Linked DNA regions of Homo sapiens: region 1 is linked to region 2. Evidence: fine-mapped expression QTL. A gene starts in region 2. The other region holds a variant in brackets. All regions are shown on one strand. Distances are between the middles of the regions. Region 1 overlaps COPS7B (COP9 signalosome subunit 7B). Region 2 holds the start of NMUR1 (neuromedin U receptor 1).

What was found. PIP is the estimated chance that this variant, and not a neighbour inherited with it, causes the effect. A credible set is the group of variants that fine-mapping cannot tell apart.
Region 1: its variant is the best candidate, but not a certain one, in a credible set for the expression of NMUR1 in whole blood (TOPMed, PIP 0.59).

The regions. Positions count from the first base shown.
Region 1 is chr2:231,795,353-231,800,724 of GRCh38, forward strand. It overlaps COPS7B (COP9 signalosome subunit 7B), which reads left to right. Exons shown (of 7, transcript NM_022730.4): 5 at 754-956; 6 at 3,507-3,612. Among named protein-coding and RNA genes, the nearest start is that of COPS7B, 12 kb to the left of the region's middle. The variant T/C (reference allele first, on the strand shown) is at 2,596.
Region 2 is chr2:231,527,312-231,532,683 of GRCh38, forward strand. It overlaps NMUR1 (neuromedin U receptor 1), which reads right to left and starts at 3,134. Exons shown (of 3, transcript NM_006056.5): 1 at 3,048-3,134; 2 at 812-1,706. The coding sequence starts at 3,050. LOC105376787 (a long non-coding RNA gene) reads left to right here and starts at 4,859. Exons shown (of 4, transcript XR_001739928.2): 1 at 4,859-5,372. RefSeq lists enhancers at 542-1,069, 1,070-1,596, 4,086-4,820 and a silencer at 2,962-3,391.

The sequences.
Region 1 (5,372 bases), 270 kb after region 2:
GCACTTGGTTTTTTTGTTCTTGGATTGCAATTTCAGTTGCTGAAATCATTTTATCTGATCTAATGGCACATTTCTGATTCTCAGCCTAGCATTTCAGGTGGGAGGCCTATTTTGTTGTGAAATGAGGACCTGACCTTTTTTCTTGTACTGATTGTGGACTTCTCAAGTGTAGTAAAGAATGTTGGTACAGCCCAATAAAGAACTATTGTTGGGGAATTCATATTGGTTGTGTCTGAGAAAACAGATACAAACTTCAGGGTGACATCTGAGCTGGCAGTACCCATTGGCCACCTATAGGTAGATATGCTGGCCTGCAAGTTTTTTTTGTTTGTTTTTGCACTCTGCTGGGCAAGTAGCCAGCTCTTTCCAGTGACTGGGATCTGTTGGAGATTTATGGTGATCTAGCAAAGTCTGAAAGCTTCCAGAAGGTGGCAGAGTGGCATATACTCAGTAGTTCCCTTTCTCTCCACTGGTACAAGTTTTTAGGATCTCTACAAGTATGCTGCAGCATGTGAAATCTGAAGGCTGGGTGAAGCCAAGGAGGCAGAGAACCAGGAGGTTGCTTTCTTAGATGTTGGGTCTTCTAGGTCTCATGGTTCATTTATCCACCTCTTGTTGCCCTAGCTATTAATAATTACCACTAGCCTGCGTTTCCCGAGCCTAGAGGCAGCTGTTGGCTATGGGAGTAATACCTGCATTTTCGCTAATGCTTGCCAGATGGTTTTTATAATGATCACATGGCCTTATCTACAGTGTATCCCCTACTCCGTGTTGCTGAAAGACCTGGAGATGCGGAATCTCCGGGAACTAGAAGACCTTATCATTGAGGCTGTCTACACTGACATCATCCAGGGCAAGCTGGACCAGCGAAACCAGCTGCTGGAAGTGGATTTCTGCATTGGCCGTGACATCCGAAAGAAGGATATCAATAATATTGTCAAGACCCTGCATGAATGGTGAGGCTAAAAGGAGGAGGGGGATATCTAGCATGTCTTTTGTGCCTCTCCTTGCAAAAATGTGATTCCCTGGTGTCAGCTGAGGGTTTGGGGTGGGCCTGTAGCTACCTGGGAGCTGGGGCTTAGTGAGCCGGAGAGTGGAGCTACATTTGTGATCACAGCTGTGTGATAACAGGAGTCATTTCAGGCCTCCTGGTGCCTTGGTTGTAAAATAGTTCTTTCCTTAAATGCAACTGGGAGCTATTTAAAAGTGGGCTATAAAATGCCCAGGGTTAGCAGGTGGAGCCTATGTGTCCTAGCTGTGTGAGGCTAGTCCTGCCCTTTCCAAACTCACGCTCAAAGTTTGACCAAACTCAGGAAGGCTAGTGTTTGTAAGATTCTTTCTTTGTTTTTATTATTTTTTCTATCCCTGTTGAAGTTAACATGTTTATAAGATTCTTCGGATAAAAGAACTTACGTTCAAAATCAGTAACATATTGGGCTAATGTTTGTAAAACACCGTGAGGGACATGGAAGACAAGGAGTGGGTCATTTTAACTTGGAATACAGACTCATACAAAGAATATCTGATAACTATACTCTGGTATATAAAAAGCATTGGGACATTTGTGTTTTCTCTGTTTTAATGGAATTTGATATTTGTAAGAGCTGTCTCACATTCTACGAGGATTCACTGTGGAGTGATTTAAATTATTTGGGGCTTATAAAGCCAGATGGACTGATTGGAGAAGTTTTAGCTCAGTTTTGAAGGAAGGCCAGGGTTAGAGTATACCTGGAGGTGAGGAGAGTGTGTTCCCAGGCAGGCACGTGGCATGTTGGAAGCCATGAAGCAGACCCGGTGAGCTTTGTACACAGGTTCGGGAGGGAGAGAGAATCTCTGCTCATCCCCGAGAGAAGCATATCCAGAGAGGAGCAGTGCCACTTTGACTCCTTGGGGCCTGATGTCCCCTGAGTTTCCCTCACTTCAGCTACTTTTACACCCCAGGACATGTGTTGCTCACCCCTCACCCCAAGTTCTGTCCCAAATATAGCCCCAAACACCTTCTCTATACAACATCTGCCACAAGTGGAAGTTTTCAATAGCTTACAAAACTTAGAATAAATAAGAAATAAACTTAGAAATACCCCAACACAAAAATGGTCTGGCACACAAAATCTAGTTTCTGAACCTGCCAAAGTTGGCTGTCCTATTCTGTTTTTGAGATGGCTGACACAGCTTTTTATGTCCATAGTCTGGTTTCCTGTTTTTAAGCCCCCAATATGTTTGACATAGAGGTGCCAGACTAACTGGTTACCATGGGATGTTTACTAGTAGAAACTCTTACAACTCATGTTTAGGCACTGGAGGTAGATTGAAACAAAATTCATAGGCTGAGGGCTACCACATATATGGCAAAATGCTCACACTGTTGGATCTTAAGTGGAGGGTATGGGGATATTCATTGTAGTCTTTCAACTTTTTCATTTTTAAAAAAATTAATAGTGGGGAAAATAGGAGGAGGGGTATGGCAATTAGGAAGTAACTTAAACTTCTGAGAAAAGGCGGAATCTTCAAAACAGGATGCTTTTAGGAAATCTTTTTTTGTTTGTTGTTTTTTGAGACAGTTTTGCTCTTGTTGCCCAGGCTGGAGTGCAATAG[T/C]GCGATCTCAGCTCACCGCAACCTCTGCCTCCCAGGTTCAAGCGATTCTCCTGCCTCAGCCTCCCTAGTAGCTGGGATTACAGGCGTGTGCCACCAGGCCTGGCTAATTTTGTATTTGTAGTAGAGACGGGGTTTCTCCATGTTGGTCAGGCTGGTCTCGAATTCCCGACCTCAGGTGATCCGCCTGCCTCGGCCTCCCAAGGTGCTGGGATTACAGGCATGAGCCACTGCGCCTGGCCTAGAACATCTTTTTTTTCTGTTGAGAAAAGGATTACTCAGTGCCATCTATAAAATCTATTCTACCTTCTTTTTTTTTTTTTTTTTTTTGCGGCAGAGTTTCGCTCTGTCACCCAGGCTGGAGTGCAATTGCGTGGTCTCAGCTCACTGCAACCTCCGCCTCCCGGGTTCAAGTGATTCTCCTGCCTCAGCCTCCCAAGTAGCTGGGATTACAGGCACCCGCCACCACACCTGGCTAATTTTTGTATTTTTAGTAGAGATGGGGTTTCACTGTGTTGGCCAGGCTGGTCTCGAACTCCTGACCTGGTGATCCACCCACCTCGGCCTCTCAAAGAGCTGGGATTACAGGTGGGAGCCACTGCACCCGGCCTGTCCTACCTTCTTTAATCGTATGTGCTACAAAACCATCTTCCATGAGATACAAAGTTGAAAATTAAAGCTGTATTCTAAGAAACTAGCCCCAGACTACCATATTTGTCTCCTAATGTCCTGCATTATGTATTTAGAAGTGCTTGTCTTTGGGAAGGAGTGAACGGGCAAGAGATGTGGCAGAGGGAGTATTAAAGGAGGTCCCTGTAAGATACTGGGGAGAGCTGTTGGGGAAGAATATTTCTGAGCCTGGAAGAGACTTCCCAGGCCATTCTGCAGCTCAGGGCTGGTTTTCTCCATTGTAGGTGTGATGGCTGTGAAGCAGTTCTACTGGGCATCGAGCAGCAAGTTCTGAGAGCCAACCAGTACAAAGAGAACCACAACCGAACTCAGCAGCAGGTAGAAGCAGAGGTAAGGAAGGAAAGGAACATTTGTTTCTCTCTCCAGGCATACCTGTTTATTCGTTTGCAGTGTTTATGTTTTTGTTTTGCGAATCTTGGTGTAGATGAAACAAGCAGTCACCAACAAGTGGGCCTGGGCTAGGTGCTGGGTTACAGGGATGAGTGTGACACGGCTCCTGCTCTTGGTGTTCTGTCTCTTTTTTCTGATTCCTGGTCAGCATAGGGTGATCAATCAGGCTTGGAGAACAGAGAATGTTGTAGTTTCAGTACACATGTACTTTGCAGCTATAGAGCAAAAGAAAATGAGTTTGGGGATGGATCTTAAAAATGGATAGAAGGATGGTGGTAAGTTACCAGGTGGAGTGGAGGGAGGGGTACAGCTGGGCAGGGGCATGTGGGGCTTCAAGGCCCTGGGAGTGTTCTGCTTCTTAAGTTGCGTGGTGGGCACATAGTTTCATTTTATTCTTTCTCTGTGAACTGTACATATATATTATAAATGTGTAAAATGCATGACATGTTTCATACGGAAAGAAGAAAGGGATAAAATTTGGCAGATGAGCTGCAAGTGAAGTAAAGAGGATGTAAGTGTGGTTTTAGTGACACCTGGTTGTTGAGGAAACTTTTAGCTTCTTGGACAGATGTAGGCCCCAGCCTTTGCGTTATGGGCATTTGTGTACCTGTAACCTGACACATGAAGTGACCTCACTTCACAATTTATTTGGAGCCCTGCACTGATTTTCCTTAGCATTGGAAGTTCTTTTCTAGTGTGAATGGAGTTTGAAGTATTAATGATGCTTAATGAATTTTGAAAATCAGGTGTCTAAGAGTGGCGGAGTGGGACCCGTAATTCCAGCTAAGAAGCATAAGAGATGAGTAGATGGTGCCTTTCAAAGGGGGATTTGTGAAATTTGGAGTGATTCTCTATACTGTTATATGCACTCCTTGAAAATAAAACCTGTGTCCTATTTGTAAGACGAGCGTCTTGTCTCATGCCTAACCCATAGTAGGTACTCAAATGTTGAACTGAATATTTCTGGCACACCATAAAAGTGTGTCAGTGGACTGCTGAACTCTGCTTTTCATGAACTTGAGCTAATTTTTTTGAATACACACACACACCACCCTATATACATATACTCTGTGGATGTTCAATTCATAGACCATGTTTAATCCGACTAGCCAAGGAAGTATGAGGCTGGGTGCAGTGGTTCACACCTGTAATCCCAACACTTTGAGAGACCGAGGAGGAAGTATTGCGTGAGTCCAGGAGTTCGAGACCAGCCTGGGCAAGGAAGTGTTAACTATATTTAACATTAGTCCAAAGCAAAGACAATTAGGAAAATAAGCTTGCTGCTTTTCTAATAAGCTGTGCAACAACCCTCTTGATGATGGTGGCCTTTTCTCTGACTTGGGATTGAGGTCTGAACAAAGTAGGAAGGGCTAACCGCTTTCTCCTTTCTGTTTATTCTTCCCTATAAATCAAACTCTGTACAAAATGAGGTTGGGAGGCTAACCACACTACCTAATCTTTGGTATCAAGGTCATTAACAAAGATGAATGATACTTGTTTTAGAATTTTGAACTGTTCAAGTTTATTTTCATTATAAATAGCATCAGACAAAAGAAAGGCGGGTGTGCACAGAGCTATTGTAGACACTTGGCTAAAGTTTGAGGCACACCGTGTAGTTACACAACAGTGTAGACTCTTTAAATTTTGGTTATTTAAACACAGAGGGTGGGTGTGTGCACGAGCAGAGCCTGGTGCTGCCA
Region 2 (5,372 bases):
AGGCTGCTGCCGAGAAGAACAAGGCCAAGACACGTTAATAACCAAAGAGAGCCGGGTGCAATGGCTTATGCCTGTAATCCCAGCACTTTGGGAGGCTGAGGTGGGAGGATCACTTGAGACCAGGAGTTCAAGATCCGCTCTGGCAACATAGTGAGACCCCGTCTCTACAAAAATGAAAAAATTAGCTGGGCATGGTGGCACCTGCCTGTAGCCCCAGCTACTTAGGAGGCTGAGTGAGGTAGGAGGATCGCTTGAGCCTGGGAGGTTGAGGCTGCAGTGAGCCGTGGTCACACCACAGCCTGAGTGACAGAGCAAGACCCTGTCTCAAAAAAAAAAAAAAAAAAAAAAAGAAGAGGAGAGACCTGAGACCTGGAGGGTCCAGATCCCATTTTCTGTCATCCTGGAGCCCAACCACATGCCCTGCCCTTTCTGTGTTTTGGTTCCAGAGCCAGGGCCCCAAGTTTAGCAGGGTCCTGGGCTTGGTTTAATGCTCTGTTGTTGCTGTCTTGACATTCTTATTCATTTTTGAAAAAGGGACCCTGAATTTTCATGTTGCACTGGACTCCACAAATTACACAATCTTACCGTTAGCCATTAACAGGTATTTTTGGTGTAAGATTCTAGTAGGGTAATCTAAAAGAGTACACAGGAGTGCAACTCAGACACACACACACACACACACACACACGAGACTAGAGGAGTTCCTCGTCCCCCATAAACCCAGATACTCAGCCCCTTCTCCCAGGCCCCAGGAGCCCCAAACTCATACCCAGTGCCTGGCTCAGCCCCTCTTCCCAGCCGTGACACTTACACAGCATCTTGGTCACTTGTCTCCGGCCCCGATCGTGCTGCTGGAGCCTGCAGGTGTATCTGGACCTGGCTGCTGCAGAGCCCCTGCCCTTGGCCTCCTGCATGAGCAGCAGCCTCTCCCGCCGCAGTCGCAGCCCAATGAGCAGGTAGAGCACGCTCATGATGGCCATGGGCAGGCAGAAGAAGAGCAGCGCGGTGGTCTGCACTACCATGTTGTAGAGGGCCCGTGGGCGGACCAGCATGCAAACAGCTGAGTCTGGCACTGGGCCCCGGCAGGGCACGTGCAGCTGCCGGATGCCGTGCAGGCTGGTGTTGGGCAGGGAGCAGAGCATGGCAAGACCCCAGACGGCCCCAAGCACTCGGCGCACATGGGCCCGCGTCACCATGGACCTGGCCTGGAGTGGGTGCACCACGGCCACATAGCGTTCCACGCTCAGGGCAGTGACGTTGAGCACTGAGGCCAGGCAGACCATCTCAAACAGTAGCGTGCGGAAATAGCAGCCACCAACGCCCAGCAGGAAGGGGTAGTTGTGCCACATCTCATAGAGCTCCAGGGGCAGGCCCACCAGCAGCACCAGCAGGTCCGACACGGCCAGGCTGAAGAGGTAGTAGTTGGTAGGCGTGCGCATGGCCTTGTGGCGCAGGATGACCAGACAGGTCAGCCCATTGCCCACAGCGCCCACCACGAAGATCAGCAGGTATGTGGCACAGATGGGCATGAACAGCTCTGTCTGCTGGGGCCCCAGGTACTTGAGTCTCAGTGCCTCGTCAGTCAGGTTCAAGTCCTCAGGGTCAAAGTGCCCCCTGGCCGCACTGCCATTGCAAGCCATGGGGTTCCTTGCACCCCCTGGGTACAGGTCTCCAGGGAGGACAGAGCAATTGAGGCAGAGAGGAGTCTGTGGAACAGAGGGGAGAGATGCCCAGAAAGATCATTCAGGGAATGCTGGCTCTGTCCTCACTCATCAAGCCAAAGGTGACATTAGCGCTATGATGACCATTATTTTAGGCACCACTGAGAAAGAAAAAACTCTTCCATCCACAAGTCAGAGATGTAAAAATAAGCTTGGTGCAGTGGCTCACACCTGTAATCCCAACACTTTGGTCGAGGCAGGCGGATCACTTGAGATCAGGAGTTCAAGACCAGCCTGGCCAATATGGTGAAACCCCGTCTCTACTAACAATACAAAAAGTAGCCGGGCGTGGTAGCACACGCCTGTAATTCCAGCTACTTGGGAGGCTGAGGCGGGAGAATTGTTTGAACCCAGGAGACAGAGGTTGCAGTGAGCGGAGATTGTGCCACCGGACTCCAGCCTGGGCAACAGAGAAAGACCTTGTCTCAAAAAAACAAAAAGCAAACAACGAAAAAGTAAAAATCTACATTTAAAAAAAAAAAAACACGTGGGGTTTTGATTTTAAATTTCATGATCTATTGGAACCTTTGAGTAAATGACAGATCTTGGGTGTCTCCTCTTTCAAGCAATGATGCTAGATGAGGCACTCGTTTGGGCATCTGTAAAATGGGCACAATGCCTGGTATTGCAGGGTCTTCAAGAGCAAGCGCTCAGGAAGCAACTGCCTGGATTCGAATCCAGCCTCCCCAGTTCCAGGCTGTGTGACCTTTAGCGAGGTAACCTCTCTGAGGCTGTTTCCCTATTAGGAGGATCCAGGGAGTTTAATCCATTAAAGACATTAACACAGGGCCTGCCTGGCATACGGAAGGGCACGGGGATCACCCCCTTGCTCTGGGGACCCAGTCACTATGAGAGTCAAGTGAGGGAGTGTCAAGGCTACACACTACAAATGCTTCATCCACAAGTTGATTCTTTTTTCTGTTTTCTGTCACCTGAACTGTTCAGTCTCCATATTTGACGCCCTTGGCACTGCCAGTTCTGGGGTTCCCTCTCCTCTATTGAGCCCCACACCCTTCCTCCCGCCCGCCCTCACCCCCGCTGCACAGCAGCGCGGGAGCCTCGGGAACCAGTTGGGAACGCGCAGGCGCCAGCCCGGGTTCAAGGGAGGCGCCCTGGTCCTCGAGGAAGGGTCGCAAGCCCGCAGCCCCCCGGCGCCCCTGGCCGGAAGACACAAATGACCCGAGAAGTTGCGAGGCTCCCCGGTGGCGGGGACGGGGGGCACCCCGACGGAGCCCTCGGACCCTTCCCGCCCTAGGACGACCCTGCCCGCACCGAGCCCCGGCCCAGCTGCCGCGCCCTAGCCCACGCCGGCGCCTGCGCACCTACCATGCGGCCCGCGGCCCGCGAGACCCCGGCTTCCACCCTCCGAGCGACGGACACAGACGCGGCGCGGGAGCCAGTGGACTGACTGACAGCGGCCCCAGCCCGCGCCCCGACGCCCCGCCTGTCCGGCCGGGAACGCCGCCAGGGGGCAGTGCAGTCCCCGCAGCCCGGGCGGCGCCCCCTCCCGCACTGGCGGAGGACGCGGCCGTTGGAGGCGACACCTCCACAAGCAGCGTGGAGGCGACACCTCCACAAGCAGCGTTATCTGACGGAACCCTCACAACAACCCGTTTTACAGATGAGAAAACTGAGCCTCAGAGAGCCGCAGAGGAGGAGCCCGAGAGACCTGGGGCTCACATGTGATTCCCGCCCTCCAGCGTGCTGAGTTTAGCTTAACGCCGTCACGGTGTCCCTGCGGCCTCCAGCTCCTCCTGCCCCCCATTCAGACCCACCTCCAAGGACAGGGACGGCCCACCAGCCCCTTGAAGTCGACATGCCCCGGTGCGGTTCATCCTCCCAGGCTCCAGGCCTCTTCTTCTGTCCCAAGGCCCATGATTGCAGCCTCCGCAGCCCCTCTCACCCGCTGCTCCCTTCGGGGCCTCCAGTCCCTGAGTCCAGGCGCTCGGCCCTGCAGGACTGGGCAAGAGCCCCCTATTCTCCCTCCAGTCCATCCTCCCACAGCCACCAACGACCATCACCCCCTCGAAACCCTTCCTTGGGGCCCCCCCACTGCCTTCTGAAAAAGAGCACACCAAAGTCTAGCCTGGGGGTGGACCTCCCCACTCCTCACCTGCCTCCCTGGGCCACCCTCTCCTCACCATTGTCCTCAGCCCCAAATACTGTCCCCCTTATCCGTTCAAATGTTCTTCTGCCCCCATCACTGTACCAAGGGTGGGGGTATAGACAAGGATGGAGGGAATTTAGGGAAGGGTTAAGAATGCCCAGCCACAGCCTCCTGCTCCCCCACACTGCCCACATGCAAATCCCAGTGCCTCACCTGCTCCCACTCCCTAGTCCTGCAATCAGCTCCTTAGCTGGAAGCTGTTTCATCAGAAACTTCTAGGGACCCTAGAAATGACGGATCACACAGAGTAAAATGCTGGTTCCGGGGCCTTTGCCCAGAGTTTTGTCTCCTTAGCCTGGGCAAGGCCCAGAAATCCTCATGTTTGACAAACGCCCTCTGGAGAGCCCCATGCCCCAGAATCACACTGAGGAGCACCAGGAGAGGTTACAAAGCCACAGGACCCCGAGAGGCCACCGTGAGCTCAGAAGCTCTGTGTGCCTCAGTTCCCCTTCCTGTAGAATGGGCTAACCACCATCGCCACTATTGTGAAGGTGACATGAGACACTGAGCGTCAAGATTCAGCACAGGGGCTGGCACATGGCCAACACTCAAGAAATGTGGGGTGGGATTGTCACCATTTAGTGGCAACTGGAGGCTCCTCCTTCCCCCCGCTTTCCTGCACCCTCCTCCTCCCCACTGCCCCCCAATTCCATAAGTCACTGTCTGGGCTTGGGGATGGGAGTTAGGCCCTCAAGGAGCCTGCACCAGGCCGGCCTTCCCAGGAACTCCACATGTAAACAGAGTCCCAGGCAGGGGACGGTTGTGGGAAGTGCAGGGGCACGTGGTCCTCAGGGCCTTGGGAGAAAGGATTCTGTGGTGCCCTGGGAATTAACTACTCAGCCCCTGATGAGCTAGTCCAGGAGAAATCCTCAGTAACAGGGCTGCCAGCACAACAGACGGGCAAGGAGGGATGACATCACTCAGCATCAGAGACCACTGTGGCATCACAGGCTGCTCTTAGCAAGTGAGGAGCATTTGGACCCCAGCCCTTCACTGGAACACACACACACACGCACATGCATGTACACACACATACACACACATGCATGCACACATCACTCTGCACATACCACACCACACACACGCGCACACACATACCACTCTGCACAGACTCTGAGCAGTCCGAAAGTCCCCGTGGACCCTTTGGTTCACACAGCCCTGGAGGGGATGGGGAAGGACCCACCTAGCCTTGCAGAGGCAGAATGACTCTTGCCAGTCAGGAATTCCTACAGCGGGTTGCATCATTCACATAACATTAGCAGCCATCAAAGGCTAAAGAGCAGCCCCCAAAAAGGAGAGGCTCAGTGGCCACAATGGCTGTGGCCCTCACTTCCGCACTGTGCAGAGGGCCCTAGGGGCCCTGGCCTCCGGGCCTGAGCTCAAGGCCACCACGGTAGTGTCCCATCAGAAACGTATGACATCCTGCTGCTCCTGCTCCGTCCTGAGGTGGCACCCCCCAGTTTTCTGGGTGTACACATCCATCT